Linked DNA regions of Homo sapiens. Changing the gene in region 2 together with the main gene of any one other region gives a genetic interaction. Each region holds a gene or a part of one and is shown on either strand. Other genes may lie near its edges.

Region 1 (3,500 bases), on a different chromosome or scaffold from region 2:
TGTATTCTGCTAGGCTTGATCCTTCAAGAGTTTTCCTTTTCTAAAACATCTTGGTAAAATTATTTGATCTCTGTTCTCTTGGACAGTGGCTAGCCTTACACTACCAGGCCCTTGGGCTGCTGTTTCTTGGTGCATGTTCCTTCAGCCTGTCCCAGAAGAATCTCCGTGACCCAGGAAGCAGCATAGTATCCCTTGGAATGAACCCGCTCTCTCTCTCTCTGGGGCATGACACTGCTGTAGGAAGAGCAGCCCCTTTGTAACTAGCTGTTTGCATCCAAAATGGGCTCACTTAGCCTGTCTACAAAAATAGCTTAGGAATACCTCACTGCTGGTATCTCCTCTCTGGTACAGATTGTAAAAGAGAAAGAAAGGTTCAGAAAAGCTCCACCCAACTACGCTATGAAGAAGACTCAGCTACTGAAGGAAAAGGTAAGGAGTTGTACTCGAGCCTCTTTCCTCATCCTGTAAGGAGATGTGGAAATCAAACTTGTTCATCCTCTGCCAAGTTAGTGGTGGTAGGATTGGGAGAAAATTCTGGGCTCGATTATAAGCAACACAGTGTGTTCTTGGCACCTGGGCAACGTTCCTTGGCCATTTTCCATTCCCTAAATTCAAACTCATCTTCTGCGTGTGTGCCAGTCTTCTTACTTTCTAGTCACTTCAGTTTCCTTTGTAATAAAATAGACCCTGGGGTGGTATTTAACACTGAGTCTGAACAGACAGATGACACTGTCAAGGCCACCTGTGGCTGGTGATTTTCCATTCTTCACACTGGGTTGGGGTGGGCCTTGTTATGGTGGTTTAGCCACCCTGTGAGGCCTGGGGTTCTACTGCCACCAGGGACCCACAGCCAGGTAGCTGTATGGGAAGGTGTTCCCCACTGTACTGTGCACTACTATAATATAAATTATATCTTGTATTTGTAAAGTACTTCTACAGTATTCTTCCACATCTCCTGTCCTTTGCTCACCACATGAGATATCTTTGCCTGTGCTGGAAGTAAGGGGATACTTGATATGGAGTCAGTTGTATGTAGCCAAGAACGAACTCACACATCTCTCTATGTGTAGGCCATGGCTGAGGACCTGGGGGATCAGGACAAGGCCAAACAAATCCAAGATCAACTGAATGAGCTGGAGGAACGGGCAGAGGCCCTGGACCGCCAGCGGACCAAGAACATATCCGCTATCAGGTGTGTTATGGAGCCTATTTTTGGCCCGCAGACCTTGGCCAAAATTATCAGGCAAGCCTGTGGCCTGTACACTCTGTGCTGCACTGACCCCATAGATATCTGAGTTCAGGGCTCAGTGGTTCCCTCCCTCCCTTGTTTCACAGCCACTGACTCATCCCTCTTACCCCACAGTTACATCAACCAGCGGAACCGGGAGTGGAACATTGTAGAGTCTGAGAAGGCCCTTGTGGTAAGAAAACTTTATCTGAATCACTAAAACAAAGTTAATTAATAAACCATGACATCTTTTCTACATCTTGCCTAAGTTTATTTTTTAATTATTGAAATAACGTAGGCACTTAACGTATACACACTCTCTCTGTATGTCCACGTACATCGATATAATTTATTCATAATGAAAAGCAGCAGTCTTCTGCCCTGTCCTACCTCTTCCCACCCTTAGATTCTACTCCACAGGTATTTGTTTTTTCTCAATTTCTGTTTCTTGGTTGTTTCCCCCATATCTACTCTGGTATTCTTGAAGGGAAAAGGATAATATGCCGGGCGCGGTGTCTCACGCCTGTAATCCCAGCACTTTGGGAGGCCGAGGCGGGTGGATCACCTGGGGTCAGGAGTTTGAAACCAGCCTGGCCAGCATGACAAAACCCTGTCTCTCCTAAAAATACAAAAATGAGCCGGACATGGTGGTGCACGCCTGTAATCCCAGCTACTTGGGAGGCTGAGGCACGAGAATCACTTGAACCTGGGATGTGGAGATTGCAGTGAGCTGTCGTGCCACTGCACTTTAGCCTGGGCAAGAGAGCGAGAATCCATTTAAAAAATAAAAAAAATTAGCCGGGCATGGTGGCTCACGCCTGTAATCCCAGCACTTTGGGAGGCTGAGGTGGGTGGATCACCTGAGGTCAGGAGTTTGAGAGCAGCCTGGCCAACATGGCGAAACCCTGTCTCTACTAAAAATACAAAAATTAGCTGGGTTTGGTGGCTTGCACCTATAGTCCCAGCTGCTGGAGAGGCTGAGGCAGGAGAATCACTTGAACCTGAGAGGCAGCAGATGCAATGAGCTGAGATTGCGTCACTGCACTTCAGCCTAGGCGACAGGGCGAGACTCCATCTCAAAAAAAATTAAAAAAAAAAAAAAAGGAAAAGGATAATAGCTTTTTTTTTTTTCAGTCCCGTGCAAAGACTTATTTGCCTGTGAGCTTATGGTGAATGAGAGGAGGGGCTGGAGGTGCAGTTCTGTGGTGCATGCTTTCTGTTTCAGGCTGAAAGTCACAACATGAAAAACCAACAGATGGATCCCTTTACTCGGCGGCAGTGCAAGCCTACCATCGTTTCTAATGTGAGTGCTGAAAGAGGACATTTTAGTCAGGACCTAGATTCTAGGACACAAAATGAATTCCATTAGGAAATTAATAATGAAGTTAAAAATAATGTTTTCTTAGCTGGGATTTGCTTGTCTGAAGCTCTTGGGTCTGGATACTTCCTTTTTTATCTTGCTATAGGACATATCGGTAGTGAAAACGTGGCATGGATTTATAAAAACCTAGTGACTGATCCTCCTGTATCAGGGTGGGTTTACAGTGCAGCAGACATTAGTAATGTGTCCCTTAGCTAGGGCCTGGCTGGGCTGGGCTTGGCTTTCAAGCTTGTAATTGCCTTTTTTTTTTTTTTTTTTGCTGCTTTGAGGAAAACCCCACTAGCTGCTGATGGGTCGGCTGTGGTGCTTGTGATGTTAGTTTGGTAGGTGGGAAAGAATCTGGCAGTAGGACTCTGTGAGTGTCAAGCAATCTCTAAAACAACTTATTTTCTCTCTCAGTCCAGAGACCCAGCTGTTCAAGCTGCCATCTTGGCCCAGCTGAATGCAAAATACGGTTCTGGAGTGTTACCAGATGCTCCAAAGGAAATGAGCAAGGCAAGTGTGGTACCACCCTGTTGCCTGCTGAGTGAGGCTGCTGGCTGAGATACCGAACAAGTACCTTGTCTAGTTTGGGCTTGATTTTTCCACCTTGAGGAACAGGGAGTCCCTCTTGGAGTCCCTTCTCCATCCCAGTTATTTACAGATATAATCAACAGACAACCTTAATTCCAAACCTGACACCACTACTTGCCTAGGGCCTTGACTATGTCCTTCAGCAGCTGGCTTCCAGCCCTCAGCATCCCCTTTTCTGCTGTGTAAAATGAGGGTACTACTGTATACCCTGCCAGCTTCACAGGAGGAGAGATAACATACAAAGATCAGACATTGTAAAAGTGAAAGCTTGTTGAAAATGGCACATTTAAAAGCAGTTTTCTTGCTGGGCGCAGTGGC
Region 2 (5,029 bases):
TGCCCGTAGTCCCAGCTACTTGGGAGTCTGAGGCAGGAGAATGGCGTGAACCCGGGAGGCGGAGCTTGCAGTGACCCGAGATCACGCCACGCACTCCAGCCTGGGTGACAGAGTGAGACTCCGTCTAAAAAATAAATAAATAAAAGTTAGACACAGTTTAGAGGTACTTGTGCTGACCTGAATTCACTGAAATGCTTTTCCTACATCCCAGTGACTGTGAAGTGCTGACCACACTCACCCCAGACACTGGCCGTATCCTGTCCAAGCTACATACTGTCCAACCCAAGGGCAAGATCACCTTCTGCACGGGCATCCGCGTGGCCCATGTGAGTCCTACTGGGTTCCCTGGACCTTTCCTCCCTGCTCTGAGGTCCTGCCTCCATCATACTCATTTCTCCCCTGGAATCCTGAGCTAGGACCAGAGCAAGAGAAAGCTAACTTGGAGTAGAAAGGATATGGGGGATGAATCCCAGGGTAGTTGAGGGTTGTGAAGGGAAAAATCCCTAGAATTGAGAATTAAGGCTGGGCGTGGTAGTTCATGCCTGTAATCCCATCACTTTGGGAGGCCAGGGGAGGAGGATTGCTGAAGGCTAGCAGTTCAAGACCAGCCTGGGCACATAGGGAGACCCTGTTTCTCTAAAAAAAAAAAAAAAAAGGCCGGGCGCGGTGGCTCACACCTGTAATCCCAGCACTTTGGGAGGCTAACACGGGCAGATCACCTGACGTCACGAGTTCGAGACCAATCTGGCCAACGTGGTGAAACCCCATCTCTACTGAAAATATAAAAATTAGCCAGTACTAGGAAGGCTGAGGCAGGATAATCGCTGGAACCCGGGAGGTGGAGGTTGCAGTGAACTGAGATCACGCCACTGCACTCCAGACTGGGCGACAGAGCGAGACTCCATCTCAAAAAAAAAAAAAGAGAGAAAGAGAATTAACCTCCCTTCTTTATGCACAGAGAGTCATAGCAAAAAGGGAGGAGGTGGGGGTGTTAAATCTTGTGTGAACGTGATGGTAGATGGTGTACTTCAGGTACAAAGAAACTGTAAGAAAAAGGGAACCGAGTGACAGAGGAAAGAGCTGAGTGATTCCTCTGGTTAACTCTGAGAACTTCCTCTCCCTTTACAAGCTGGCTCTGAAGCACCGACAAGGCAAGAATCACAAGATGCGCATCATTGCCTTTGTGGGAAGCCCAGTGGAGGACAATGAGAAGGATGTGAGTCCAAGTGGCAGCTGGGGAATGTGGGGAGCCCATGTTTGGGACTGAGGTCTTCCAGCCCTCAGGAGAACCTGGCAGAGGCATCAGGCTCATCACTTTGGGGAAAGGTGAATGTGGAGAATTCAGTGATTCTGTTGGAGGACCTTGGGGAGGTCAATAGATTTCTGTATGCTTTTATGCGGCGGGTCCTTTCCCCCCCTCGAGTATGGAACAGATTTCTTGATTTTTCTCCCCTTCTTCCCAGCTGGTGAAACTGGCTAAACGCCTCAAGAAGGAGAAAGTAAATGTTGACATTATCAATTTTGGGGAAGAGGTGAGTAGGGACTGATTGGAGGGCATTGACTTAATTTGGTCATAAACAGAATGGTCCTTAACCCTGAGGAGTGCGGGTACTGTGGCAGAGTAGTGCAGAAATGGGAAAGAACAGGGAGCAAGGCCTGAAGAAGGGCATCATGTGTTCTTTCCTCCCCAGGAGGTGAACACAGAAAAGCTGACAGCCTTTGTAAACACGTTGAATGGCAAAGATGGAACCGGTTCTCATCTGGTGACAGTGCCTCCTGGGCCCAGTTTGGCTGATGCTCTCATCAGTTCTCCGATTTTGGCTGGTGAAGGTGGTGCCATGCTGGGTCTTGGTGCCAGTGACTTTGAATTTGGAGTAGATCCCAGTGCTGATCCTGAGCTGGCCTTGGTGAGCAAATGTTGACCCCAGGTAGAGTCCAAAGGTCCCTCTTTGTTCTCTTCTGGCACACACATCACAGAGCTTCTATCAGGCTGGATAGTCCTAGACACTACCAATCACTCATTTTCCAAGACCTCCTTTTGCCGCCTCTTCCCTATAATGCTGTCTGATCTCTAGGGGCACCAGTGTCAGATGCTTTCTTGTTCACTTCTGATGAAAACCGAGGCTTCTCCCAAGTCCTTACTTTTTAATCCCGTACCACTGCTTATCCCTCCAGCTTCTTCTCTGTGTGATAAACCAGAAGCTGCCCCTTTATGTTCCTTTCCCACACCCCAACTGACTTTCCCAGCTCCCTGTAGGAGTGAGGGCAGGGGAGCCCTGATTATGCCCTGCCCTTCACCAGGCCCTTCGTGTATCTATGGAAGAGCAGCGGCAGCGGCAGGAGGAGGAGGCCCGGCGGGCAGCTGCAGCTTCTGCTGCTGAGGCCGGGATTGCTACGACTGGGACTGAAGGTGAAAGAGGTGGAATCCGAAGTCCTGGGACTGCGGGATGCTAAACATTGAAAGCTGGGTGTAGGCACTGCAGGGAGAGTGTGGAGGTCTGACAGGGTAGGAATATGTGGGAGGGCTGGGCTAGGAATGGCCTTGGAGGCTGGCCTGTGTGGATATGGCACCAATTCTACCCTGCTCCTCTTTTCCTTTTCCCAGACTCAGACGATGCCCTGCTGAAGATGACCATCAGCCAGCAAGAGTTTGGCCGCACTGGGCTTCCTGACCTAAGCAGTATGACTGAGGAAGAGCAGATTGCTTATGCCATGCAGATGTCCCTGCAGGGAGCAGGTGAGCCAGAGCCTGGGTGGTGCCTAGGCAGAGGTTGGGGTGAGGAAGTGTAACTGAACAGACTGACCTCTCTTCCTCAGAGTTTGGCCAGGCGGAATCAGCAGACATTGATGCCAGCTCAGCTATGGACACATCTGAGCCAGCCAAGGTGAGACCCAACCCTGCCCCCATCAGGTTTAAAGTCCTTGAATTTAGATCCTCATCCCTCTGGGGCTGGGAGTATTTCTACCATAGCTAAGTCCTTTGAGGAGCAGAGGGAAACACATGGATTTGCATTTCTTACATGTAAACCTTGCTAAGGTAGCAATGCTAATGGTCAGAGTTGGAGAAATGTCCTCTTGTTCTGTAATTTTCCTTTCTTGCTGGTGGGAGCAGCCTGGGCAGTTCTCTAGGATGTCTTCCCAGGAGGGAAAAAAGCGGGTCTGGGAAAAAGAAAAAGGAGAACTGGGTGTCTTGAGAGCAGGAAACCTCAATGTGATGGCATCTGTTTTTCTCCTCAGAGCTCAATTAACAGAGTTCTCAGCAGGCCCCTCTATTTGGTTAGTAATAACTGCATTCATGCTGTATAAAGGATTTTGCTGACTTGTCCTTTCCTTACGTCGACCAGAGGTGCCCAGATCCCCACACAGTCAGAAGGCAGGGGGCCTCTGGCAGCGGCATGCTCCTGTCCTTAACACCTGCTTACTTCCTGCCGCTCCATACCCTCCCTTGAGCTCACACTGCCTGTTTGCAGGAGGAGGATGATTACGACGTGATGCAGGACCCCGAGTTCCTTCAGAGTGTCCTAGAGAACCTCCCAGGTGTGGATCCCAACAATGAAGCCATTCGAAATGCTATGGGCTCCCTGGCCTCCCAGGCCACCAAGGACGGCAAGAAGGACAAGAAGGAGGAAGACAAGAAGTGAGACTGGAGGGAAAGGGTAGCTGAGTCTGCTTAGGGGACTGCATGGGAAGCACGGAATATAGGGTTAGATGTGTGTTATCTGTAACCATTACAGCCTAAATAAAGCTTGGCAACTTTTTTTCCTTTTTTGCTTCAAATATTGATGGTTTTGAGTGTGAGAGAGGGGAGGAGTCCCTGGCCTGAAGGAGAACCTTCCTTGTTGAGTTCTCTATGTCTCTGTTTCCACCTGTCTGGGCCTCCTAACGTGCTGGGATTACAGGCCCAGGAGCCAGGTTTCCATTTCTAATGAACGAAGACCTTATTTAAACCACCTTCTTGCCAATAACTTTTACTCTGCACTCACACAGCTGAACCCCAAGCATGGAATGATACTCAACCTTTTCAGTTTTTTCATGTGGACTTCTGAGGTTCAGCAAGTTTAGGTTATTTGGCCAAGGATATTTAGCTAATGAAGAGGCAGAACCAGGATCAAAATCCAAACTTGTCTCAGACCTGTCTCGCCAGGAGTTGAATCACCACCAAACAGTAGTTTCCCATTGGTCAGCTGCCTTCAGTGACTCTGCTCAGCCCTGCAAGTCAGTTCCTTGTAGCAACTACTATACCTTCCTCTACTCCCCGATCACTCTCAACAGAAGCCTGACATCTTTACAGAGAGTCAAGGCCGTGAGGCAGGAAGTTCTGGCTCCCTCCCTCCTGCCAGCACCTCCCTGCATCAGTTATGCTGTCTCCTGAGTCTCTGCTGTCCTAAACACCCTGCTGGCGTTTTCCTCTCAGTGTACATGCATAAAATCCACTCTACAAGTAACCTTACCTTGAGACTTTATATTATACGGTTTAAATATTATTTTACAAGGAACATCTATTCCCTTTATAATTTTTTTTAAAGTTTTTTTTTTTTTCAGCCAGGTGCGGTGGCTCACACCTGTAATCCCAGCACTTTGGGAGGCCGAGGTGGGCAGATCACAAGGTCAGGAGTTTGAGACCAGCCTGACCAATATGGTGAAACCCCGTCTCTACTAAAAATAGAAAAAAAATTAGCCGGGTGTGGTGGCACACGCCTGTAATTCCAGCTACTCAGGAGGCTGAGGCAGGAGAATTGCTTGAACCCAGGAGGCGGAGGTTGCAGTGAGCTGAGATCATGCCACTGCATTCCAGCCTGGGCGACAGAGGGAGACTCTCAAAAAATAAAAAATTAAAAAATATATATATATATTTTTATTTATTTTAAACAAAGTCTGTGCTCTGTCACCCAGGCTGGGGTGCAGTGGTGTGATCATAGCTCACTGTAGCCTCAACCTCCTAGCCTAAAGGATCCTCCTGCCTCAGCCTCCTGCATAGCTGGGACTAAGGCACACACTACCACGCCCAGCTAATTTTTTTTTTTTTTTT
Region 3 (4,059 bases), on a different chromosome or scaffold from region 2:
CACGCCTGGAATCCCAGCACAGGCCAAAATGGGAGGATCTCTTGAGCCCAGGAGTTCGACACCGGCCTGGGCAACATAGTGAAACCCCGTCTTTATTAAAAAAAAAAAAAAAGAAAGAAAAAAGAAAGGGGTTAAAGGGGTTGTAAAATTAAAAATTAGGGGATGGGTATAAATGATAGCTCAGGTTCGCCTGGTCACAGGAAGCCAGACTTGCCGGGGTTCAATCTGACCTCTTCTTTTCTAAAGAGCACGTAAAATAGTACGAAGTCAAAAAAGAATTAGAACTTCGCAGTGATAGTGGAAGCGCTGGAGGGCGATGGCGGGAGGGCGCGAAGGCCCAAGACCCTTTTAGTACAGTGTGGTACAAACAACCGAAAGGTCTCTGGAGTCGAAGAACTAAAAGGACGCCTAAGCGGTGTCCAGAGCTTAGCAACCTCGTGGTCTCTCAACCCAAAACGACGGGAAGAGCCCGAGCAGGGGAGGCTAAGAACGCCGTAGCCACGAAGCCAAGGAGCTAAAGCTGGCGTCGGTTTAACTCTTCCAGCGCCAAGAGATGAAAGGGGAAGCAGAGGGAAGCAGAAAGGAGGGAAGAAGATCCCGGGAGGGAACCGTACGGGCTGCCGCAAAACAGCTGGGAGCTTGAAACCCATGGAGAAGTCACTTCTCTTTCCCTCGCTGACCACTTCTGCCGGGAACGACCGGGACAGTCGCAGCCGAAGCGGCGGGGGCGAGTCCTCGGGGGAGACCGGGTCGGAGTCGGGGCCCCGTGCTCCCGGAGGGCCAATGACGCCGCCTTCCCCAGCCCGAGGCTCGCTCCTTTCTCCCGCCCTCACTTGCCTCGTCAGGCCTCCCCCAACGCCGTCCACAGCCCTTCCCAACCCCTAGGCGAATCCAGGTTCAAGACGTAGAAAAGCCGATGCTGGGTCAGCAGCGCCAGGGACTACCGGCCGGCAGAAGCCCCACAGTGGCAGCCGCCATTTTGGAGCTGGAGACTAGCGGCGGAGACGAGGAGGAACCAGGGCGAGACCATCTCCGGGGGGTGGGCACGGTGCTGTCGGAAGGCGACGGCGGTCACGCCTGCACGCCTCGTCTGTCTGGAGCGAAATTTTATTCAGAAATTATTGGTAATGTTTGGAAGCTAAAAAAAAAAAAAATGAGAGGAGTCAACCCTGAGGAGGAAAAAGTAGTATGATTTGCTGGCGTCACCCCTCTGCTCCGTGCGGGCGCGGCGAATGGCAGGTCCCGAGGTCGCAGCTTCCACTGGCGCGGGTTGAGTTCCCTGTTGCCCTTGGTCTCGGGGTCGCTGTAGGCGCTGAGGCTGCAGGTGGGTTTGGGGAGCCCGGGGGGCCGCCGCGACGAGGATCACGGCGACGGTGGCGGGGAGGGTTCTAGGCAAGCCCTCGGTGCTGTGCATGTGTGGAGGGGTGGTCTGGGCTTCCCCGGGGCTTCCGAACGAAGGTGACGGGAAAGGAAAATGGGGTTTTCTTCGGGTGGAGGATGGGATTTCCGGGCCGGAGCTTTTGGAAAGGGTTTTCTGAGGCTGTCATAACAGGAAAACGTCCGTAGAGATGTGACCCAGTGACCGCCCGCTAACCGGACTGGAGAGAAGACCGGCCCGGATCCCACGCCTGGCCTGAAGCAGGGAAGACGCTGCCTCCCCTCCGCGAGCAGCTTACATTCGTCCAAGTTCCAGCCTTCTGTCTTCTCGCTAACCTCGCTCTCTTCCAAATCGCAAATCCTCTTGAGCCGACACCGTTGCGCCTAAATGATGTGCTTACCCTTTTACTTTGCTTTTTTATTTTTGAGACAGAGATTCACTCTTGTCACCCAGGCTGGAGTGCAATGGTGCAATCTCGGCTCACTCCAACCTCCGCCTCCCGGGTTCAAGCGATTCTCCCGTCTCAGCAGCCCAAGTAGCTGGGATTACAGGCGCCCGCCACCACACCCGGCTAATTTTTTGTATATTTAGTAGAGACGAGGGTTTCACTATGTTGGCCAGGCTGGTCTCGAACTCCTGATCTCGTGATCCACCCGCCTCAGCATCCCAAAGTGCTGGGATTACAGGCGTGAGCCACTGCACCTGGCCCACCTTGCCTTTTAAAAGACAAAAGTATGGCCAGGCTTAGTGGCTCACGCCTGTAATCCCAACACTTTGGAAGGCCGAGGTGGCCGGATCAAGAGGTCAGGAGTTTGAGACCAGCCCGGCCAACAGTGAAACCCCATCTCTACTTAAAAATACAAAAATTAGCCGGGCGTGGTGGCACCTGCCTATAGTCCCAGCTACTCGGAAGGCTGAGGCAAGAAAATCACTTGAACGGCCGGGCGCGGTGGCTCACGCCTGTAATCCCAGCACTTTGGGAGGCCTAGGCGGGCGGACCACCTGAGGTTGGGAATTCAAGACCAGCCTGACCAACATGGAGAAACCTCGTCTCTACCAAAAATACAAAATTAGCTGGGCATGGTGGCGCATACCTGTAATCCCAGCTACTTGGGAGGCTGAGGTAGGAGAATCCCTTGAATCCGAGAGGCAGAGGTTGCTGTGAGCCAAGATTGCGCCATTGCACTCCGGCCTAGGCAACAAGAGCGAAACTTCGTCTCAAAATAAAAAAAAAAAAAGGAAAGAAAAAAGTATGAATTGTATAAGCATGCCAGTGTAAGAGGAGAGGCAGAAATTCAGTCTACATAGTCCTAGCACAGCTTAGTGCTAAGCACTTTTGTTGGCAATAATGTATTGTCTTTCTAGGATGTTGTCATATGTCTTCTTAGTCATTGTACATGATTTATTAGTTTAGTCCAAACGCACACAGGTGTATTTTGAATTCATCTGTATGCACGAATTTTTACAGAAAATTGGCAATCCAACTATGTTTTTATTGAATTGTGCAATTTATTTTCCACATGATGTCTATTACAGGTTCAGTATCCCTGATCAGAATGTTGGAAATCCAAAATGCCCCCATATGTGAAACTTGGGGCCACAAGTTTGAGACCAGCCTGGGCAACATAGCAAGATCTTGTCTCTACAAAAAAAAATGTTTAAAGAATTTTTTTAAATTAGCACCCGTAGCTCCAGCTTCTCAGAAGATTGAGGTGGGAAGATCACTTGAGCTCAGGAGTTCAAGACTGCAGTGGACTATTATAACTCCACTGCACTCCATCCTAGGTGACAGAGCGAGACTATTTAAAAAAAAAAAAAAGTTTCATATAAGATTACCTTCAGGCTATGTGTATAAGGTATATATAAAACACAAATGAATTTTATGTTTTAATTCGGTCCTATCCCCAAGATAGCTCATTATGTGCATGCAAATATTTCAAAATCAAAAAATCGAAAACACTTCGGGTCCCAAGCATTTCGGATAAGGAAAAACCTATAGTTCTATTCCTCCTCATCTACCTTCTGGAAACTCAGCATTTAAAAGCTTTTAAGTACCATAAACATCAATTCAGGAAGGGGTTTCTTAGGCATGGGCTATAATAGCAGCCAGAGCTGTAGAGTGAAGCTGAATTTGAACTCCAGCTCTGTACTTAATAGCTATTTGGATTAAGCTGTTTTCTTATCTGTAAAATGTAAATAATAGTTATTTCACATTACGTATAGAAATAGATGATGGCTCTGGTACCTAGTAACCTAGTAGTCTTTTTTTTTTTTTTGAGACAGCATCACGCTCTGTCGTCCAGGCTAGAGTACAGTGGTGTGATCTCAGGTCATTGCAACCTCCGTCTCTTGGGCTCAAGCAATCCTCCCACCTCAGCCTCCGAAGTAGCTGGGACTACAGGCATATACTACCACACCCAGCTAATTTTTTGATTTTTTGTAGAGACAGGGTTTTGCCATGTTAACCAGGCTAGTCTCAAGCTCCTAGGCTCAAGCGATCCATCCGCCTTAGTCTCCCAAAGTGCTGTGGTTACAGGCATGAGCCACCTAGTAGTCACTCTATAAAAGTAAATTTTCTTCTCCCTTTGCCTTTTTTTTTCTTTCTTTTTTTTCTGAGACAGAGACTCGCTGTATCCCCCAGGCTGGAGTGTAGTGGCGTCATCTCAGCTCACTGCAACCTC
Region 4 (2,398 bases), on a different chromosome or scaffold from region 2:
AGGTTTTAAGGCTCCTCAGATGAGGTCTCTTATGCATTTGGAAAGGAACCTGGGACCTAGGGTTAAAGGACAGATCCTCTGCTTTGCTACAGTGTAATCTTGGACAGGTCATTCTACTTGGTCTCATCTGTAAAGAGAGGGGAGGGTCAGGGTAACAGTTGATAACTCATGGGTTATAAGGATTGAGTGAAATTGGAATACTCATGGCAATATTTATGCTATGAACAATAGAACCAACTAAACATTCAGTTTAATATTCAATGTTTAGTAGATTTATGGCACAATCCTGCATTAGAAGATTGTTTGGCCATTAAAATGTTTGCAAAGAATTCTGTTTTTGAGGTAGGGTCTTGCTATGTTGCTTAGTCCGGTGTCCAACTCCTGATCTCAGGTGGTCCTTCTACCTCAGCCTCTTGAGTAGCTGGGACTGCTAGTGCAAAAAATTGTTTTGTTTTAGGCTGGGCGCGGTGGCTCACGCCTGTGATCCCAGCACTTTGGGAGGCTGAGGCGGGTGGATCACGAGGTCAGGAGATTGAAACCATCCTGGCTAACACGGTAAAAATACCGTCTCTACTAAAAATACAAAAAGTACAAAAAATTAGCCGGGGGCGGTAGCAGGCGCCTGTAGTCCCAGCTACTCAGGAGGCTGAGGCAGGAGAATGGCGTGAACCCAGGAGGCGGAGCTTGCAGTGAGCCGAGATTGCACCACTGCACTGCAGCCTGGGCAACAGAGCTAGACTCCGTCTCAAGGAAAAATAAAAAAAAAAGGATTGTTTTGTTTTTTTGACAGGGTCTTGCTCTTCTCCCAGGCTGGAGTGCAGTGGTGTGATCTCGGCTCACTGCAACCTCTGCCTCCCGGACTCAAGCAATTCTCTTGCCTCAGCCTTCTGAGTAGCTGGGATTACAGGCGTGAGCCATGGTGCCCAGCTCCCAGCTAATTTTTAAATTTTTTTGTAGAGACAGTGTCTCGCTATATTTCCCAGGCTGAAAGAATTCTTAACAGCATGGATAGGATGTCCAGTAACAACAAAGTATAAGCACAAAACTGCATATGTCATGGCTACATCTTTGAAAAATCAAAGGCTGTAGGAAAATACATAAAAGATTATCCTGGGCTGGGCACGGTGGCTCATGCCTGTAATCCCAGCACTTTGGGAGGCCGAGGCGGGCGGATCACGAGGTCAAGAGTTCAAGACCAGCCTGACCAACATAGTGAAACCTCGTCTCTACTAGAAATACAAAAATTAGCTGGGCGTAGTGGCACGTGCCTGTAATCCCACTACTTGGGAGGCTGAGGCAGGAGAATCGCTTGAACCCGGTAGGTAGAGGTTGCAGTGAGCCGAGATCGCACCACTGCATTCCAGCCTGGGTGACAGGGCGAGACTCCATCTCAAAAAAACAAAACAAAAAAAAGATTATCCTCTTGTTGGCATTATAGGTGATTTTCTTCAGTCAGCATATATATATATATGTGTATGTATATGCACACACACACATATATACACACACATGTTGTACCTGAGCGAGTTAGAGAAAACGCCACACTTTGAGACGAATTAAGAGTCCTTTATTAGCCGGCAACCAAGAGACGGCTAACGCTCAAAAATCTCTCGGCCCTGAGGAAGGGGCTTGACTAACTTTTATACCTTGGTTTAGGAAGGGGAGGGGAACTCAAATGCAATAATTTTACAGAGGTAAAAACATGCAAGAATCAAAAGAAGCAAAATGGTTACAGAGAGATAAACAATTTAAAAGACAAATGGTTACAAAAAGCAACCGTACCAGGTGCAGGGCTCTAAATCCTTCATTATAATTAGATATGGGGCTATGCGGGACACAACTCAAGGCTTTATGTTGTTATCACTTTGAGAAAAATCCTGGGAACTTCATACATTGTTTGTGCCAGTACCTTATCAGTTAATTGGGCTCCTTTGAAATGCTGAGGATCTGCTTAACACAGGTCAACTCCTTGTGGAAGGGGGTTGGGTGAGGAGCCCTTAGTGTCTTGTAAATTAAAGGGTCAATTGGAGTTTGTCCGGCTTTCCCAGCTAGAGAGAGAGTCTTATTTACATGAGAAGCAAGGCTAGGTGGTTAAAGAGACAAACAGGGAAGATTCAAAGTAGTGAGTTAGAGTAAAAACAAGGTTAGGCATTTAACACATGTATGCACACACACATATATGTGTTTTTTGGTTGTTTTTTTTTTTTTTGTTTTTTTTTTGTTTTTTTTTTGAGACGGAGTCTTGCTCTGTTGCCAGGCTGGAGTGCAATTTCGGCTCACTGCAGCCTCTGTCTCCTGGGTTCGAGCAAGTCTCCTGTCCCTGCCTCCCGAGTAGCTGGGACTACAGGCGTGTGCCACCAATTTTTTTTTTTTTTTTTTTTAGTAGAGATAGGTTTTC

What was found. Genes that interact genetically often act in the same process or in processes that back each other up.
Region 1: changes in PSMD4 (region 2) and RTF1 together harm fitness less than expected from each alone (positive genetic interaction), as found in Homo sapiens cells (one large-scale study listed by BioGRID).
Region 3: changes in PSMD4 (region 2) and NDUFB1 together harm fitness more than expected from each alone (negative genetic interaction), as found in Homo sapiens cells (one large-scale study listed by BioGRID).
Region 4: changes in PSMD4 (region 2) and EEF1G together harm fitness less than expected from each alone (positive genetic interaction), as found in Homo sapiens cells (one large-scale study listed by BioGRID).

The regions. Positions count from the first base shown.
Region 1 is NC_000015.10:41,476,095-41,479,594, forward strand, and holds part of RTF1 (RNA polymerase-associated protein RTF1 homolog), read left to right. Parts: intron 1-351; coding exon 352-429; intron 430-1,070; coding exon 1,071-1,192; intron 1,193-1,363; coding exon 1,364-1,421; intron 1,422-2,453; coding exon 2,454-2,531; intron 2,532-3,008; coding exon 3,009-3,104; intron 3,105-3,332; exon of another isoform or gene 3,333-3,397; intron 3,398-3,500. UniProt on the Homo sapiens protein: Component of the PAF1 complex (PAF1C) which has multiple functions during transcription by RNA polymerase II and is implicated in regulation of development and maintenance of embryonic stem cell pluripotency.
Region 2 is NC_000001.11:151,263,703-151,268,731, forward strand, and holds the end of PSMD4 (26S proteasome non-ATPase regulatory subunit 4), read left to right. Parts: intron 1-211; coding exon 212-326; intron 327-1,129; coding exon 1,130-1,216; intron 1,217-1,463; coding exon 1,464-1,532; intron 1,533-1,691; coding exon 1,692-1,907; intron 1,908-2,301; coding exon 2,302-2,410; coding exon of another isoform or gene 2,411-2,419; intron 2,420-2,605; coding exon 2,606-2,737; intron 2,738-2,817; coding exon 2,818-2,885; intron 2,886-3,470; coding exon 3,471-3,641; 3' UTR 3,642-3,777; downstream 3,778-5,029. UniProt on the Homo sapiens protein: Component of the 26S proteasome, a multiprotein complex involved in the ATP-dependent degradation of ubiquitinated proteins.
Region 3 is NC_000014.9:92,118,907-92,122,965, reverse strand, and holds the start of NDUFB1 (NADH dehydrogenase [ubiquinone] 1 beta subcomplex subunit 1), read left to right. Parts: upstream 1-1,259; 5' UTR 1,260-1,324; intron 1,325-1,566; exon of another isoform or gene 1,567-1,770; intron 1,771-4,059. UniProt on the Homo sapiens protein: Accessory subunit of the mitochondrial membrane respiratory chain NADH dehydrogenase (Complex I) that is believed not to be involved in catalysis. Complex I functions in the transfer of electrons from NADH to the respiratory chain.
Region 4 is NC_000011.10:62,561,494-62,563,891, reverse strand, and holds part of EEF1G (elongation factor 1-gamma), read left to right. Parts: intron 1-2,398. UniProt on the Homo sapiens protein: Probably plays a role in anchoring the complex to other cellular components.